Linked DNA regions of Homo sapiens. The protein of the gene in region 3 purifies or fractionates together with the protein of the main gene of each other region. This does not show direct contact. Each region holds a gene or a part of one and is shown on either strand. Other genes may lie near its edges.

The links. Proteins that work in one complex are often made in the same cells at the same time.
Region 1: the proteins of SLC9A9 (region 3) and CXADR purify together in Homo sapiens (affinity purification with mass spectrometry; one large-scale study listed by BioGRID and IntAct). This does not show direct contact.
Region 2: the proteins of SLC9A9 (region 3) and ABCB1 purify together in Homo sapiens (affinity purification with mass spectrometry; one large-scale study listed by BioGRID and IntAct). This does not show direct contact.
Region 4: the proteins of SLC9A9 (region 3) and STX16 purify together in Homo sapiens (affinity purification with mass spectrometry; one large-scale study listed by BioGRID and IntAct). This does not show direct contact.

What each region holds. Positions count from the first base shown.
Region 1 is NC_000021.9:17,561,048-17,565,876, reverse strand, and holds part of CXADR (coxsackievirus and adenovirus receptor isoform 1 precursor), read right to left. Parts: intron 4,540-4,829; coding exon 4,401-4,539; intron 450-4,400; coding exon 185-449; 3' UTR 1-184. UniProt on the Homo sapiens protein: Component of the epithelial apical junction complex that may function as a homophilic cell adhesion molecule and is essential for tight junction integrity.
Region 2 is NC_000007.14:87,503,867-87,507,379, forward strand, and holds part of ABCB1 (ATP-dependent translocase ABCB1), read right to left. Parts: intron 2,178-3,513; coding exon 2,031-2,177; intron 584-2,030; coding exon 377-583; 3' UTR 1-376. UniProt on the Homo sapiens protein: Translocates drugs and phospholipids across the membrane. Catalyzes the flop of phospholipids from the cytoplasmic to the exoplasmic leaflet of the apical membrane.
Region 3 is NC_000003.12:143,845,032-143,850,611, forward strand, and holds the start of SLC9A9 (sodium/hydrogen exchanger 9), read right to left. Parts: upstream 3,438-5,580; 5' UTR 3,292-3,437; coding exon 3,117-3,291; intron 1-3,116. UniProt on the Homo sapiens protein: Endosomal Na(+), K(+)/H(+) antiporter. Mediates the electroneutral exchange of endosomal luminal H(+) for a cytosolic Na(+) or K(+).
Region 4 is NC_000020.11:58,649,451-58,654,916, reverse strand, and holds the start of STX16 (syntaxin-16), read right to left. Parts: upstream 3,635-5,466; 5' UTR 2,911-3,634; coding exon 2,779-2,910; intron 1-2,778. UniProt on the Homo sapiens protein: SNARE involved in vesicular transport from the late endosomes to the trans-Golgi network.

The DNA of each region.
Region 1 (4,829 bases), on a different chromosome or scaffold from region 3:
TAGTGCCTGTAACTATTTCGATATAACCAAACAAAAATTTTTAAAAATATATTCCGTACAGTTCCTGATTAACTTATTTTTTGATGTATTTTGAGGCTAGTAACACAATTTAGACCAGAATAGGTTTTCATATATCAAAAAAAGGAAAGGAACACGGAGAGCACAGATGAGACATATGGAGGCTCTATACTATAGACCCATCCTTGCTCTGTGCTGGAATCATCACAGGAATCGCACCCATTCGACTTAGATTAGGGGCAGCTACCTTAGCAGGTGGGAGAGTCGGACTCTGAGGAGTGCGTTCAAAGTCTTCACTTGGTACTTGGTTATACTGAGTCTTGGAATATCCTTCCATGTTGGAAGGAGACATGGACCCCAGGGATGAATGATTACTGCCGATGTAGCTTCTGGCAGTGGACGTACGGCTCTTTGGAGGTGGCACATCTTCCCTGCAAAGCAAAATCCCCAATACATGTCAAGAGAATAAGTTTCTAAAAACCTACAATTATGCAAGCTATGAATCATGGATAAGAGCCTGTATTTAGGTACTAAACATATAAAAGTGTGTGTGTGTGTGTGTGTGTGTGTGTGTGTCACAAAAAAGCAAAAAGCACAAGCCATAACGTCATAAATTGTGTATGTCTCCAATCTGTCATTCTGATTAAAGAGTTATAACTTCACACTTAATGAAATATGGTATTTACACAAATGTAGATGATTCTAGAATGTTGTCTTACAAAACACAAATCTCAAATAGTTTCATATTCTAGTATCACTGGTCAAGACAATCTAGTTAAAGCCATGTAACACTTTATAGTTGAGAAAACACTAACACCTACAGGTATATTTCTATCTTAATCACACCTGTAATCCCAGCACTTTGGGAAGCTGAGGTGGGCAGATCACTTGAGATCAGGAGTTCAAGACTAGCCTGGCCAATATGGCAAAACCCCATCTCTACTAAAAATACAAAAATTAGCCGGGCTTGGTGGCAGGTGCCTGTAATCCCAGCTACTCGGGAGGCTGAGGCAGGAGAATCGCTTGAACCCAGGAGGCCAAAGTTGCAGTGAGCCAAGATTGCGCCACAGCACTCCAGCCTGGGCGCCAGAGTGAGACTCTGTCTCAAAAAAAGAGAAATAAATAATAAATTTTAAAATTTTTTAAAAAAGGAAAAGAAAAAATTCTTTTTATATTAAAGTTATCTAAAACCTTAGCTGAAAACACTACAGATTTAAGTTTGCTGGGAATTTAGGCATAAGAATTTTCATACCAAACACTGACAGAGAGCTCAACTGGCCCTCCACATCCACGGGTTCCACATCTGTGAAGCCAACAAACCATGTATAGAAAATTTTGTTTTAATATTTTTAAAATACCTAACATGTACAGCTTTTTTCTTGTCATTATTCCCTAAACAATACATTATAACAATTATTTACATAGTATTTACATTATATTAGGTATTATAAGTAATCTAGAGATGACTCGAAGTATACAGAAGAATGTGTGCAGGTTATATACATTGTATCTTTTTCTTTTTCCTTTTTTTTTTTTTAATAGAGACATCTTGCTCAGGTTGGTGTCTTGAACTCCTGGGCTCAAATGATCCTCCCATCTCCGCCTCCCAAAGTGCTGGGATTACAGGCGTGAGTCACTGCGCCTGGCCGCCATTTTATATCAGGGACTTGAGCATCCTTGGATTTTGGTATCTGCAGGAGGTCCTCCATGGATACCGAAGAATAACTATGTATATGAGTTATCTTTGGTGCATTTAAAAAATACAGCCATACTCGTTTCATTGTGCCTTGCTTTTATTACACTTCATAGATACTTACTGCATTTTTGTTTTGTTTTGTTTTTTCTTTACAAATTGAAGGTTTGTGGTAACCTTGTGTCAAGCAAATGTATCAATACCTTTTTTTTTTTTTTTTTTTTTGAGACAGAGTCTTGCTCTGTTGCCCAGGCTGGAGTGCAGTGGCGTGATCTCAGCTCACTGCAAGCTCCACCTCCCGGGTTCACGCCATTCTCTTGCCTCAGCCTCCCGAGTGGCTGGGACTACAGGCGCCCGCCACTGCACCCGGCTAATTTTTTGTATTTTTAGTAGAGACGGGGTTTCACCGTGTTAGCCAGGATGGTCTCTATCTCCTGACCTCGTGATCCACCCATATCGGCCTCCCTAAGTGCTGGGATTACAGGTGTGAGCCACCGTGCCCGGCCACCAGTACCATTTTTCCAACAGCATGTGCTCACTTCATGTCTGTGTTGCATTTTGGAAATTCTCACAACAGTTCAAACTTTCTCATAATCATACCTGTTAGGGTGATCTGTGATCAGTGATCTTTGATGTTACTATTTTAACTGTTTTGGGGCACCATGAATGATGCCCATAAGAGACAGCAAACTTAATAAATGTTGTGTGTGTTCTGGCCATCCCCCCCAACATCCTCCCCATCTCTCACCCCTCCCTCAGGCCTCCCTATTCCCTGAGACACAATGATATTGAAATTAGGCCACTTAATAACCCTACAATGACCTCTAAGTGTTCAAGTAAAAGGAATAGTTATCATGGCTCTACTTTTTAAAAAAATATCTTATTTATTTTGAGACTGTCAACCACGGTAGGGTGCAGTGGTGCGATCCTAGCTCACTGCAAGCTCAAACTCCTGGAGTCAAGCAATCATCAGCAAGGCTCTCTTTAAATCAAAACCCAGAAATAATTAACCTTAGTGAGGACAGCATGTTGAAAACCAACACTGGTTGAAAGCTAGTATCTTGCACCAAACAGCCAAACCAAATTGTAAATGCAAAGAAAAAGTTCTTAAAGTAAAGTCAAAGTGTTACTCCAGTGAACACGTGAACGATAAGAAAGTGAAGCAGTCTTATTGCTGATATGGAGAAAGTTTAGTGGTCTGGATAGAGGATCAAAATAGTCACAACATTCCCTTACACCAAAGCCCAATCCAGAGCAAGGCCCTAACTCTATTCAATTCTATCAAGGCTGAGAGAGCTAAGGCAGCTGCAGAAGAAAAGTTGGAAGCTAACAGAGGCTGGTTAATGAGTTTAGGGAAAAAGGCCATTTCCATAACATAAAAATACAAAGTGAAGCAACAAAGTGCTGATGAAGAAGCTACAGAAAGTTATCCAGAAGATCTAGTTAAAAGATCGTTGATGAAGGTAACTACACTAAGTAACAGATTTTCAATAGAGACAAAACAGACTTCTACTGGAAGAAGACACCATCTAGGCCTTTAGTGGCTAAAGATGTCAATGTCTGGCTTCAAAGCTTTAAAGGACAGGTTGACATCTTGGCAGGAGCCAATGCAGCCCAGGAGTTCGAGACCACCCTTGGCAACATGGTGAAACCCCATCTCTACAAAAAATACAAGAATTAGTCAGGTGTGGTGGCTTATGCCTGTAGTCCCAGATACTCGGAAAGCTGAGGTGGGAGGATCACTTGAACCCAGGGGGCAGAGGTTGCAGTGGGCCATAATTGTATCACTCCACTCCAGCCTGGGCAACAGAGAGCGAGACCTTGTCTCAGAAAACAAACAACAAAAAACCCAACAACCAAAGAAAGAAATTGCCATAGCCACTGCAACCTTCAGCAACTACCATCCTGATCAGCCACCAGTCATCAACAGTGAGGCATGACCTTCCACCAGCAGAGAGATTAAGACTCACTGAGGGCTCAGATAATCATTAGCATTTTTTAGCAATATTTTTTAATTGGGGTATCTACACTGTTTTTTTACACATAATGCTACTGCACATTTTAGACTACAATATAGTATAAACATAACCTTTTATGCACTGGAAAAACAAAAACATTCATGTGATTTATCGCAGTGTGCGATAACTCTGAAGTGTGCCTGTACAAGTGTCCAGACCCCACCCTAGACCTGCCAAATGTCAATTTCTAGGGTGTGAAGTCATGTGTTATTACTTCTAAAATTCTATTATCTAATATGCACACTTCTCGTTAAGACCTACTGATTTAGAATATTTAAGGAAAATAAAAATTATACTACCAATTGTTCTACAAACTTCCAGATTACTTGATACAATCAGGTCAGTTTTTTTTTCAAACCTCAATATCTACTTCATCCCTACCACTGCAGGCAGGGATTCTTCTCAAGAAGCAGGCAGTCTTGAGATAATCATTTGGCAGTGGTTCTTAAAATGGGGTACGAGAAGGTTGGGGAGCGGGGCACAACGAATGGTGGTTGGAGCTCTGCACTTGCAGTTAGAAGTAAATGCTTTCAAATGTATTGAGAAGGCGGCCAGAGCTTTTACCCATTCTCCTAAGAAAGATGCTTTGGGTGGTTAATAAGAGAACGAATGCTTTAGAGAAATGACATATATTTGGTATACATCAGTCAACTCCTGTCTCACTTAATTACCTGATATCGTGATGAACTTCCTTTTCATATTTTTCTTCTCTGCGCTTTTTACGACAGCAAAAGATGATAAGACCAATGAGCGCTAGAGCAAGCAAAGTTCCTATAATGGCTCCTGCAATTAGTCCAGCTTTATTTGAAGCTAAAATAAGAAGAATTAATAGTAAAAAATATATACATATATACATGTATAGATACTGAAGGTAGGCTATACATTTTTAGATTGATTTCATCACGTGTTAACTTTAAGACAAATTATTTAGTCTTTTTGATCCGGGGGAAAAATTCATAAAAAGAACTGTCTTCTGAACTGTATAATCTATTCCAAGCATTAAAATGATAAAACCTGTCTGAAAGATTTTAATATTCAAAGCTATCTTGGTTAACATATAAGAATGTTCTAAGCTACTCATACTTATAACAGCTAAATAT
Region 2 (3,513 bases), on a different chromosome or scaffold from region 3:
ATGAAAGTTTAGTTTTATTATAGACACTTTATGCAAACATTTCAATACTTTTTGCTACTTCTATAATCTTTTAGCAAGGCAGTCAGTTACAGTCCAAATGGGAAAATATAAACAAAATTACACATTTTATCTTTTAAAATCTACTTTAATTCTGTTATAAAATTTATAATGCAGTTTAAACTATGATTTCTCTCCACTTGATGATGTCTCTCACTCTGTTCCTTTAATTACGAAGTCTCTGAAGACTCTGAACTTGACTGAGGAAATGTTAAACAGATACCTCTTCATAATTCTGTAAGTGTTTGCTTTTAACTTTGAATAAATGTCATATCTAAACAAATATTAAAAAGTATTTAACATCTCATACAGTCAGAGTTCACTGGCGCTTTGTTCCAGCCTGGACACTGACCATTGAAAAATAGATGCCTTTCTGTGCCAGCAGCTGCTGATGCGTGCCATGCTCCTTGACTCTGCCATTCTGAAACACCACTATTAAGTCTGCATTCTGGATGGTGGACAGGCGGTGAGCAATCACAATGCAGGTGCGGCCTTCTCTGGCTTTGTCCAGGGCTTCTTGGACAACCTATTCCATAATCACATAGATTAATTCTCATAATAGTTCTTTTCCCTAATTCCTCTTCCATAAAAAGCTCCACAGTAGGACGGGCATGGTGGCTCACGCCTGTAATCCCAGCACTTTGGGAGGCCAAGGCGGGCAGATCACAAGGTCAGATTGAGACCATCCTGGCTAACACGGTGAAACCCCATCTCTATCAAAAATACAAAAAATTAGCTGGGCTTGGTGGTGGGTGCCTGTAGTCCCAGCTAGTCGGGAGGCTGAGGCAGGAGAATGGTGTGAACCCGGGAGGCAGAGCTTGCAGGGAGCCAAGATTGCGCCACTGCACTCCAGCCTGGGCGACAGAGCGAGACTCCATCTCAAAGAAAAAAAAAAAAAAAAGCTCCACAACAATACAACAATAGATCCTTCTTAACAAGGTGTCAGTGAAATAGAACAGGTTTTTGAAAACAAAGGATTTGTCATATCAGATGACTGAACCCTAATTTGGGTTAGTTCCGAGGCAGCAGTTATCTATCCCTAACTTTTTTTTTTTATTTGAAACAGGGCCTCACTCTGTCACCAGGGTGGAGTGTAGTGGTACAATCATGGCTTACTGCAGCCTCAACCTCCTGGGCTCAAGCGATTCTTCCACCTCAGCCTTCTGAGTAGCTGGGACTACAAGTTCCCACCACCATGCCTAGCTAATTATTTTATTTTTTGTAGAGACAATGTCTCTCTGTGTTACCCAGGCTGGTCTCAAAAATCCTGGGCTCAAGTGATCCTCCCACCTCAGCCTTCCAAAGTGTTGGGGTTACAGGTGTGAGCCACGGCAGTAGGTGCCGGCCAGCAGTCATCTACTCTTAAAGTTAAGGCAGTAAATACAGTTCACTGACTCATTTAAAAACATTTACTAATGTGTTTACCTTAGTTTCAAGGATGTTACAACATCCTTGAAAACAGACCTCAAATCCAGCTCACAGTAAATTCAAGAAGCCTGAGCAAAGGCCAAATACAGACTCCCGAATTTTTTTATTGTAGAGAATACCTCATACTGAGTTCGTCTTTCAGATAATCTGAATTTTTAACGTTTTCTCTGACTAGAAATGATTGCTAATATTTATCTTAAAAGGTACAGCCAGATTTTAACACTGTCTTACACTACCACTTTTCCTTATGGTTGCTGAAGAGATGCTGCCAGTAGAAGTAGGAAATATGGTTCCTGAAAGCAGCTTCTTAGGTCAACGCAAACTGATCTAGTGATGGTTTGTGAAGCATATGTGCTCTAAGACTAATCTGCCTTGTGTCATCTTTACTCTCCTGAATAACAGCTACAGAAAGTGTTTACATTTTACTGAAAGGTGATGTAAGTAACTGTCAATAATCTGGCTGCATTTTGTTCTTTACTATGGAGAATACAGCATTTTTAAGGATGACTGATTCAAGTATGGATGAACCCAATTTAAATTCTTACCTTTTCACTTTCTGTATCCAGAGCTGACGTGGCTTCATCCAAAAGCAAAATATGAGGCTGTCTAACAAGGGCACGAGCTATGGCAATGCGTTGTTTCTGGCCACCAGAGAGCTGAGTTCCTTTGTCTCCTACTTTAGTGCTATATTTCTGTAAATAAGGTTTTGTTGTTATGAAAGTAGAACTGAAAGTAAAGTTCTAACAGCTTGCTTATAGAAAGTAGGATAGACGATTCTATATACTCCAAAAATTTAGGTTCAGAAGCTAAGAATGGTTCATGAATAATTAAGGAAAGAACAGTAAAAAAGCCCAAAATGGCAGGTTTACTATCTATTTGAAAATAAATGTTTGGGCCTTAAGATGATATGTTTTAGTGTAAACAGGTCAGCATTTTAATGAAGAAGAATATTGTTGCAATGTTAGTATCTTCCATCTTCTGATTTCATTATATTTGGGACAAAGATTGGCAGGAGAAAGGAAATTTGATTTGAACAAAGTATTCATAATAAAATAATTGAAGCTCATCTTACTTGTAACCAGCAGGTGACACTCTCTGCATGATTTTAAATTGAGGAAAGACATTCTTGGGATATCAGCCTTTTAGTGTCTGTTTTTATGAAAGTATCTCCAACACTTAAACAATTTTAATGGATGCTATCAAAATGGATTCCATTTTGATATCTAACTTTGAAAATGAACATCTCCTTTTTAAACATTTTTGTTGTTAGAGTGCTCCCAAAATTCTTCCCGTGTTGTTTCCCACAATGGATAATTGTCACCAACTATTCACTATGATGATAGGGACAGCAGTTAAAGGTTACTCAGGAGAGAGCAGAAACAGGATGTGACTGCACTTGTAACCTAGAAAACAATACTATCTTATTATTTCCAGGCTGAAATTTTAGTACAGGGTTGCCTATTTTTATTTGCTATATCTGGCAACCCTAGTTTTGTGGCACTCAGCCCTGGGTTTCCCCCTGTAAATAGAGGGAGAAGACGCCAGATGAGGTTTTGGCAGATGCTTGGGACTGGCTCTACCCCAGAGCTGTGGCTGTCTCAGAAGGCAGGAGCACTGAAGTGTATCTCATGTGAGTGGAGGGTTTACTAGTTGCACTCTTGATATAGTACTGATCCTGTTGAGGCAGATAAAGGCAGTGCGGCAGTCTTACAAGGAGGTAGCTAAACCAGCCACCTACAGGGTGAGGTAAATCCTAGTATTAATCACTTAGGAGAAGTGGATCCTTAGGTAATAGGACTTAGGGGTTTTACCTTTTCTCTCCTGGTCTAGACACTGAGGAAGAGAATTATGGTGTCTACAGGTGTGTTCTGTGTGACAGATTAGAGACCAGGATTTGTCCTGTGGTAGACAAATGCCAGAGAGGCAAAGTATATTTAAAAAGATAGATAATAGTTACTCTCTGTGTTTGTGTTTTATTAACCCCTAGCCCAGTGGTTCCCCAATTTGAGCCTGCAACAGTATTACCTG
Region 3 (5,580 bases):
ATCCTGAAAGCTTAACCATATGAGGATGCATCTAGATCCCACAGACACATCCTTTCTCCAGGAAAATTATTGCAATAATTTACTTATTTTTAAATATCTTAGCATCTCTTATTAAAGAGATGGAGGTTGAATCCCACCTCAACAGCTAACTAATTACACGACTTTTATCTCTCTAAGTCTTCATTTGTTTGTCTGCAAAATGAGAATGCTGGATTTATGATCTTTAAGGCTCCTTCCCCATCTATGATTCCAAGTTCATTTATAGCTGTTGGACAATTAATTCACTTGGCATCTCCTTTCCCCTATCATTAAAAAGTGTTTACTACAGTATCCCATCATGTTCCTCTGGTGTAGTTTCAGACTATTTTATTACATTACTGATAGAAAGTTCCTAATAAGCATTTAAGATATAACATTTAGGACATCCCTGAAGAAGAAATGTGACAAGTCATGAATGCCACCCATATGGAGTACTTTCAGAAAACACAGGGAGAGTTCTTTCAGGTGAACGTGAACCTTAGTAAGACATGCAGATGAGTGAAAGCACATGGACCAGTCATGAGTGGCTATTCAGTTTTGGAAAGTCCCTTCACTTCTCTGGGATTCAGCTTCTGCCTCTCTAAAATAAAGGGGATAGAGAAGATAACCTCTAAAATTCTTTGACATCCTAACAATTATGATTCTATGCCAAGAAAAAGTTAAACATCACTAAAATATGTCTTTTCATTGATCTATATAGTTCAAGATAACTGAAAGATACTCAAAATTTCTAGTAAGAGAATACATATATATGCATATCTCCATAATTTTTATAATCCTTTTACATTGCACTGGTTCAGAATTTGCTTTCAATAACTTTTACTTTAAAAAACTCATGAAAGAAGAATAGGAATCAGAGAACCCAACTTAATTCCACTCATAAACTTTAAGCCTTTATCTGCCTTAAGAACAGCAATTTAGAGAAATGCTACCTCAATAGCAGTGGTCAATGAACTACTATTTTATTATTTCAAGCACAATTTAAAAATATTTCAGAGAGTTTTGCAGGATTAAAGGTAACCTGGAATTTTTCAGATTCAAAAGTAAGAGTTACTGTATGTATTGTGAATGCAAAACATGACTGAATTTTAGTAGGTTATCAAAACTTTTACGAAAACAATATCCCCACCATTGAACTTGGTAAATGAGTCATAGTTCAATCAAATTCAGGGATGTGAAGAAATCTTTCCCTCTAATAAAGGTTGGCAATCTATTAAATCTGGGTAGTTTTGCTAAAGCACATATGTCCCTTTAATATGATATCAAGAATTACATTGTTTCTGGCTTCTCAGATTCTATTCCATATCCTTGCAGATTACTTATTAGTCAAGTCAAGAGAAAAATTCTGTTCATGATGGAGATAGGCAAATGACAGGAACCTAGGGCTTCACATCTGATGGCATCCCCTCCTTTTTGTTTGGCTATTTCTCTCCCACCTGATTGTGATTTTTTTTTTCTCTTAAATGAGAGTTTTCTTGTGCCCGTTAAGACCCTCAATACTGGCTGGGAATGGTGGCTCATGCCCGTAATGCCAGCATTTTGGGAGGCCAAGGTCAGTGGATCTCTTTAGGCCAGGAGTTGGAGACCAGCCTGGGCAACATAGTGAGACCCTGTCTCCACTAAATTTTAAAAAATAAATAAAACAATACAGCAAAAAAAGGTTTTTTTTTTTTTTGCATTTGGGTTATGTTTTTTTTCTTTTTTTAATTATACTTTAAGTTTTAGGGTACATGTGCACAACGTGCAGGTTAGTTACATATGTATACATGTGCCATGTTGGTGTGCTGCACCCATTAACTCGTCATTTAACATCAGGTATATCTCCTAATGCTGTCCCTCCCCACTCCCAAGCAAAAAATTTTTAAAAGACCCTCAGTACCAAGGAATTTAACTCTGTGCTCTGAATGGATCAGCATATCAGCCTCCTGAGCCTGAAACTTCCGCCTTATAGCTCAAGTATCTCACAGTGGGATCCACTTAAGGCTTAGGATTCCTTAGGTTCTGAAATCACAACTATACACTGTTAATATCAGGACACCACAGGATTAGCATATACAATGTGCATTGATCTGTACCCTGAATCTCAGGCTTAGGAAAGGGTTTCAGGATTTCCAAAATGAGGAAACCCCAAATATAAAAGTATGTTATTTGCTATAAATTATAGCAATGCCTTGCCTGTTGCCATTGTGTTCAAACTTCCTATCCATTATCAGGCTGAGATAAGAGCAGTGAAGTAAACTATTTCATCAGTAACACCAGTAAAAACTGGTGTCTTTCATTTTACTTTAAAAGATGAGAGTACAGACAGATAATCTCTGTCAGACTTTATTAAACTTTCTGAAAGGAATGATACGGTAAGTTGCCCAGAAAGAGCAATACTGCAGGTGTTAAATATTTTTCCACACCTTGGCCTCCAATACATAAATAGGAGATACATAACAAATAACACTAGCAATGATCATTATAAATTAGAACATCTGAAATCAGGCTAAGAAGTAAAAAGTACTGCATAAAGAAACTCTCGTTTATTTATAACTTTTTATTATAAGAAAATAAGACACTGTTCGTATAAATAAAAAGGACTTGGACACAATATTCTCTTAAGAGGGGTGGGGTTAGTTTCTGCAAGTTTTCTTCTTGAAATTAGTTGATATAAGAGGAATTACTCCAGGCATTTTGAAGTGATGTTTTTTCTAGAACTTCGTAATGTTCATCGGTGCAGCCAGTGAGAGAAGGCTGCTCTTTGTGACTGCAGAGCCATCACTTCCCAACATCATTACAAAAACAAACAGCTCGCCCTCGACTCCCCACATGACAATGGACCCGCATCTGTCAACAGACTTGCATTATGTGCCGTGTGAGAACATGACTGTGACATTTGCTCTCGTGACATGGCAAATTTCGGCGGCTTGTCTGTAAAGAGATTAGCATTCGTTACGCTGCAGCACCTTTCATCAAACTAATGACATTTCAATCAGCACATTTTCTCCAGTTTCGGTACTTTGCTATCTGAGCACAAGTCTCTAATTACGCTCAAGCAACAAGTTTCACATCAATCTCACAATTTATGCACTCACCATACACCATTGCTCCTCCAGTTTCATGCAAGAAGCGGAATCGATGATTTTTAAATAACCAGATTGTCAAAATGGTAAGGATGAGCAAAAAATTGAAGACAAGCAGCTCCACCGCTCCCTGATGTTGAAACTGATACTCATCCTTTTCTGACATAACCCTTGACTGTCTCTCCATTCCCCAGTCTTCTTGGGATTCCTTAGATAAAAACCTGGATAAAGGCTATTTTATCAAGATTTGCCTAAGACAGTCTGACTGCCTGAGAATTTCAGAAGAAACACTGCCACTTTAGTTGCTACTTCACAAGCATTCTGCCCTGGCTTAGTATTCAGATGGCTTCTAGTTACAACTTCCTGTTTCTCTCTTAAAGCAGCCCTGTCTCTTTTCAAACTCGAGAGTGTGTGGTTTCATCACTGACTCTTAATGTCTTTAAGTGATTCATCTCATGAAAATATCTTTCATACTGGACAAATCTGCAAGCAATGATGCTAAGATCTTGAATCACGGTCTTATTATTCCAAATAAGTCTTCTTAAGCTGCATAAATATGAACTGTAGATTAATAATAAAAAAGGTAGCCTTACACTAGCAACGTTTTCTAAGTTCAAAAAGCCAATTCCTGACTCAACTTCACCTAAATGCAAGATCTTTCCTCTCTAACCAAGACCTGCCAAAGTGATGGGGATTGATAGCACAGTTATCAATCAGCCTCTGTGCTCTAAATGGATCAGCATATTAGCCTCCTGAAAAGATATTACACTGCTTAGCCTGAAACTTCCGCCTCATAGCTCAAGTATCTCACAATGGGATTCACTTAAGGCATAGGGTTTCTTATAGGGTTTCTTATGCTCTCAAATCATGACTGTACATTGGTTAAGCAAACCTAAAGTGATTTCACAGGATTTTTTTTTTTTTTTTTTAGTTGAGAAGCAAGAAAGGATTTAGTATATGACTCTATTTGGCTTTATATAATTGATAGTTGCAGAGCAGCCTTTAAACTCTAAATCAATTGTTTTTCTTTTAACAAGAGAAAACAATGAAAGCAAAAGACAAATAAAATTCCATCCCCATCTCTACAACTGTACTGTTTGGATACGTTGAGACAAAAAAGAAAAAAAACAAAACACATTACTTCGAAAGAGAAACTCACGCAGCCATCCTCAGCAACGCCACATGCATGGATTTCTCTTTGTAGGGTTCCTGGTCTCGGCATCCAGGACCCACAGAAATCTGCAATAGATCACAACCTCCTCTGTCCTATGGCAAAACAATGTTGCTCACTGAGAAATGGTTCTGCCACCAGAAATGAAAGCTCTGTATTCACAGGATTCTGATCATAAGAGTGATGATTCTTCAGATCATCTTCCATGTGGCAGGTTGCTCCTGTCTGATTTCATATTTTTCTACTTTAAAATAGTTCAAGATAATACCATGGGTTCTGCAGCTTTTTTTTCCTTTTCTTTCTTTTTTCTTAGCAAATATTATGACCTGCTTGCTTTTAACACTTGATCCTATAACACATTTGGGTATATCCTGGGGTTAGCTGATTTTTTTTTTCATTTTACCATATCATTGTAATTTGGGAGTATTAATCACTTATGATCCCCATTTTGACACAATTAATGCTCAATTTATACAATGTGATTTCTTATTGAGTAGGCTGAGCCCAAATGCGTCCTGAAACAATTTTTGTCACTAAAAGCTAAAGGTCAAGCATGTAATATTATTGGGAGCTAACTACCTCCTCAACAAACAGTTTCACCATGAGAGCAAGTCTATCAACCCCTTAATACAAAGCTCTGCTGTTTCAGCATCTTTGCTTTGTGCAACTTTGGAAGCTTATTTCCTCTCTGAGTTTAACTTAGCAGAGGGTATTTATGTGTGCTGCAGATGTTCTTCTGACACGCTACCCTTTTTGGCAGGAATATCTGTGATGACTAATATTCATACTGTTTTGAAACCTATCAGCTAATGCTTGCAAGCATTTCATGGAGCTTTGCTAGCAGGTTCTACCTTTATGATTTTGCAACTCCACAGGTTCAGTCGAGTTGTCAGATATACAAGATAACACAAATTCAGAAACTTCCTGTCCTTTTGTTTTTTGTCATTATTGAATTACTTTGGTTTTCTTTTATCACAATTATTCCATCTGAGTAGAATAAACATTCTCTGGTTGATCCGTGACATCCAGTTTCACTCTTTTAACCAATGAAGCAACTTGACAAAAGATTAATGGCCCATAGAATGTTTTGATTGGCTTACACGTCTTTTTAAAAAGTTTTAGGTTTGATGTCAACACATTCAAATCAGTATATTTAACATTTAAAAAATCATATGGCTTTTTGCAAGAAAAACTTGTAAGATCTGGCACACTGGGCCCTTCTTACATGGCCACAATCTGTTGGGGCTGAGTGGTTGCCTGCTGCATTTGCAACCAGCTTGCCACAAGTCCATTCATCCCTCTTCT
Region 4 (5,466 bases), on a different chromosome or scaffold from region 3:
ATGTCGCACACATACTCATCACTAGACTTAACAATGAGTAACAATTTGCCTTATTTGCTTCCTCTATTTTTGGAGGGGTTTAAGGACTTAGGTAAGATGCCTTGACATTTCACCACTAAACATTTCAGTAGGCATCTCTAATAAAATTAGCAAATGTAATGTATTATAATTAATTCCTTAATGTCACCTAATACCTAGTCCATATTCAAAATTTGACAGATACGATTTTGTTTGGTTTGCTACATGGCTTTGAAATTTACAAGTCAGAAACAAGGCTTTAAATTTTTTGTGAGCTAGATATGCAGTGAAAAGCATTGCTAAGAGTTACTCAATAGATTTTACAAATTGTGTTAAACATGGCTTTTGCTTCAAAATGTTTATAAAGCTTTTCCAACTTCCAGAAAAGTTGAAAAAATCATAACCTCTATTTAGTCTTGTTAGCATTTCGCCGTACTGTGTGCAGAATAGATTTTGTTACGAATCACCTGTAAGCAAAGTGAAGATGTAACACTTCAACCCTAAATACTTCAGAAATTTATGACATGCCATTTTTTAACACAATTAAAATATATAAATCTGTGTTTTATTTTTAAATTTGAATTCAGGCAAACTATGTTTGTTAGACTGCAAAACCTATTTTTGAGATAGTATGGATTGACTATAAGGATATTTTAAATGATATGACTGCTTTCAATGATCTGAGAAAGATTTTAAATGGTCAGACTAATATAAATATTAACATTTTCAATGGTATGACATTTAGAAAACATTTTTTAACGTTCTTAGAAATGTATTTTTAGTTGGGTTTAGAAATCTATTTTCAAAAAACTGTGAGTTAGCTAAATGTATCTGTATATACCCTGACATATCTATTTTTCCAAACTGTATACGTTAACTATCCATTTTTAATTATTCTGCTTAGCTTAAATATTTTTTAAAATTGCCTAACTTAGAAAATAATTTTCTAAAGTGGTCTGATTCAGAGATGCACTTTTAAAAAGCTTCCCGTCTCAGATACTAGGTTTTTAAACTGTCTGACTTAATCGGGAAAAAAAAAAAAACCCTCATGTTACCCAAAGGTTCAGGGTATTTTGAACCTTAATGATTAAAAATTGAAAAATAAACAATATGTTTTTCAATTAAAACTGATACCTTAGAAATCTTAATATGAGTTTCAGTAGTTTTTGAGGCAGCACAAAATCAAGTCATTTAAGGAACATGCAGTTCTTATTTAACATTACTGAAGTTCCATTAAGGAATTGAATTCATCCAATTTCTACTCGATTTCTTGGATTATTTCTTCTTCAAAATTAGCGCTAGAATTAGCCTGTTTCTATGCTACCAGACATCTTTACATTTATTTCAATATAATGTAATTCCTTTCCGTTTATAAATGTAAAAAAAACCCTTCAACTTCTTAATTAACTGAAATCTCACACACACTCTGTCCCTAGTTCTAGGCTGTTTGACCTGAGTTTACATGCTTTTATTCCTGAAACCGCTCACACGGCTTAAAATGACTTTTCTATCAGTTATATGGCCAAAGACATTCTCCACCTGTGACTTACAAAAAGGAGAAACTGTCTTTGTAGACATGATAATCATGACATATGGCAAAATTTTCCTGAAGCATTTAGATAAAGCCATAAAGAAAAAAATAAACTGGCAATACAGTCCCTAAGAGGTGAAATGAATGTTCCAAAATTGCCTAATATCAAGTATAACCCCCAAGAATGTGGTCCTGGGATGGCTATTTCCCGCCTGTTCCAACGCTGCTTCTATTCCAACCTAGTCTGCCTACAGCAGGTAGCCTGAACTACAGCCAGTTTCATAACTTCACTTTTCAATTGAAGACATTACAGAGCTAACGATCACTGTCTGGTATAGATCATCCAGACTCGCCCCTTATTTAACAGAGCAGTAAACTGAGGCTCAGAAAGGGAAAAGTAGCCCCCATTAAAAACAAACCCCAAACAGTAATTTTTCCAGGACCACCCTTAAAAAACGCTACTGCTAGGCTAACTAAAGGTTGTGGTTAATTAAAAAAAAAAAGTGCTATTTTACGGGGTTAATTTTCACATATACCTCCTCAGGCTTTTTTTAAAAAGTTCGAATGGAGAGGAAAGCTTAATTTCCTGTCTGGGAAATGGAAAGTGAAGAGGCTAGCACCTTGAGTCTCACAAACGCAAGCCCCCAGGAAGAACAGTGAGGCAATTATTCACAGGGAACAAGGCCACACAGAGGGCTGCGGGGCCGTTAAAAGAAAACGGGCGGAAAAACAAAACAAAACAAAACAACAACACAACTCCCTCCTCTTTGAGGGGAGGGAGTCGTTCATTTTGCAAGGATTTGGGTCTACGATCCGGCGACCCAGCCCTTAGGACCAAACTGAGGCTCATTACTGGGGGGAGGGGAGCTTCAAACAAAACGAAACAAAAAGGCTTCAGAAAGGCCCAATGCTTCCCAATGTTAGCGTTAAAACATATGTAAATTACAGGCGGCCTGTAGCGCAGTGACGCCAAGGCGGGGGGTGCGGGGGGGGGGGTGCTGCGGAAGTGAGGAGAAGACCGGGCAGAGGTGGAGCTGCGGCCTCACAGCACCGCTTCTTCCTCATCCAGGGCTACAGATGCCCCCTGACTCTAGCCAAGAGATCTTATTATTCTTAGTCTTATTATTCTTATCTTCTCTTTTTAAACAGAGAGACAGACAGAGACAGACAAACAGGCAGAGCCGCAGTGCACACGGTCCGTGTGTCGGAGAGGCCGCCAGGAGACTCACCGCAGCAATGCTACGTGAATGCAGAGGGCTGGAGGTGATGTGACTACTCACTTGCTCGGCTAACAGCTGCCGGTTTTGGATGGAATTATTCCGCAACAACAAGAAAGCGTCGGTTAAACGCCTGGTGGCCATGTCTCACCCTTTGCGACCCCCCTCTCAGGGGCCCCCCGCCCACTTATATTCCTGATTTATTCACTTTCTTTCTCGTGGCCCGGCTGGCCCACCCTTTCACGGAAGCTTCTCGACAAGGCCTCAGGCCTCAAGCCAAAAAGATGCAGCTGTGCGCTTCGCCAAGGCGTAGAGACCCCTCCCCAAATAACTACCTAGGCTTTCCAATTGTCTGACTCCCCCTACCCAGGGCAGACTTCGATCTCTAAGCACTTGAATCCCCCCAATCCTTGCGTAGCGATCCAACGTCCCAGAGACCCCACCCCAATCCAACCTTGGATCTACAAGCGTCTAACTCGCCAATCCGGCTCTAGACTGGGAGGCCCTGAAGCCCCCTACTCCCTGAGACCCCCCGGAGGTCTCTGCTCTCTACCCCTAACTTTGGCTCGTAAGCGTCTAGGCCGTGCCCTGAGGTCTGGCTGTGACTCAGTTTCCGCACCAGAGGCCTGGCCTAGGCCCTCTTTGGACAACCGGAGCCAGGCTTGGGGCCTGGACTCGAGGGCGCCTGCAGCTCCCTTCTGGGGACTTGTCTGAACCTGCTGAGGCCCTGCCCGACCTCCTGACCCCTTCCTTTCCTGGACGGCCTGGTCCTCCACTGCCAGCAGGCTGCCGGCCTGCAGGAAGACAGCAGGGCCTGCCTCCCCGGCCTTCTCACTCCTCTTCTCCGGCTCCCTCCATCCCCGGATCTGACTGCAGCTCAGCCCCGGACCGTTTCCGTGCTGTGGTCCCGGGTTCTGGCGTTCCCCCCTGGCCCTCTTCCTGTCCGTCCCTCGCGAGTGCCCCCCTGCGACGCTCGCAAGCCTTGCTCGCAACGTTCCGGGCGCGGGAGCTCCCTGCACTCCTGCCCCGGGGCACGGGAGTGCTCCGCCCTCTCCCGGGGTGCTCCTCGGGCGCCCTGTTTCGCCTCCCCCAACTGGGTCCAGGCACTAGGAGCAGGCCAACGAGCAGGCCTGAGCCTGGGGAGCGTGGCCCCCAGGCTGCAAACCGCTGCCAGGGCCCTTGGTCGCTGAATTAGAGTGGAAGTTGCGCGGCAGGCAAATTTGGGCTCCCCAAGAACTGAAGTTTTGGGCGCGGGGAGTTGGAGCGGGAGAGGAAAAGTTGGAGACGACTGCCTCTGCAGGCCGAGCACGCTCTACTGCAGGCGGCGGCGCTCGCTTTTTTTTTTTTTTTTCCCACTCTGGAAAAAGATGTATCCGACAAACAACCACGAGGAAATAAAAGGAAAAAAAAAAAAAAAAAAGGAACAAGAACTCCAGGCAGCCTGGCCGCGCCGCCGCTGGCAGTCGGGGGTCGTCGGGGGCGCCCGCCCTCCCCAGCTGCCGCTTTCTGTAGGGGGCACTGCAGGGTCGTGGAATCTCAAGTGGAAAAGTTCCCCGAAAACTTTGACACCTCCCACCCCCCTCCCCGCGAAAAAAATCTCTGTTCCCTGCCTGGGCCCTGGCCCTGCGACCCCCGCGCCCCCCCGTGCCCCGGGCCGGGTTTTCCACGGTTGGCCGGGCCCAGGGCGCCCTAAGCACCTCGACTTGCCGCCCCGGGCCAGGTCGGCGGGGTTCGTGCAGGGGCTCCGTGGGGCCGCGTCGGGCAGGGGCCGCCCGGGCCCGAGCACGGCACCCACAAACAGGCTGGCGTCCCGCGACGGAGACCCGGGTCCGGCCCGGAGCCGCCCGGGAGGCTTGAGGCCAAGGGCCTGGCCCAGCGCGCGGCCGGAGCGGGTCGGGGGCGCAGAGCTGTGCGGCGGCGCCTTCCGGGCCCCGGGCCTGTGCAGGGCCGGCTTCCCCTTGCGGGGCGAGGCTGCGGGCCGGGCTGCGGTGCGGGGTTCCAACAAAGGACCGAGGCCCCAGAAGCGGCCCCCACGCGTCCTTTGTTTCTGCGTGGAACAAACTTTACACACGTGTGTGTTTTCCGAGGGTTTCCCGTGTGCTGAGCGCTTGCAAAGCGGAGTCGCGCCCGGGGAGACGCGAAGCCGGTGCCCGCGGCTCACCCAGGGACCCCAGCCAGACAGCGGCACCCGCGGGGCGCGTGCGGGACCCCCAGGCGACCGGGGGAAGCACCGGTAACCGCCCCCCACCCGTGCTTTTTCTCTCACGGAGAATGTTCCCGCGCGTTCGTTGTGCAACTAAAAATTAATGTGAAACATCCATTGAGGCAAATAACAAAATGCATCCAACGAAACCCACATAAAATCGAGAGAGCCGCGAGCAGGGCTGGGCGAGTTCACTGTGAGGACCGGCTCTGGCTTCCGCGCAGCGCGGAGAGCAGGGCGCTCGCCCGGGGACGCTTCGCAGCGGTGGAAGATTCGGGCGACAGGGGACTGGGTCGCCGCGCGGGCCGGGCTGGAGGCTGCAGGGACTTGCTGACAGGCCATCCAAAGACAGAGAGGCCCTGGGGAGGGAAATTCGGGGAGCCCGTGTGCTTAGCGTAGCGCCCCGGGAAATATTTGCCCAATAAGGGAGAGTTTGTCCCCACACTGCGGCAGAACCCCCCTGCGAGCTCTGACCCCAGCAGCACGGCCAAGCCCCC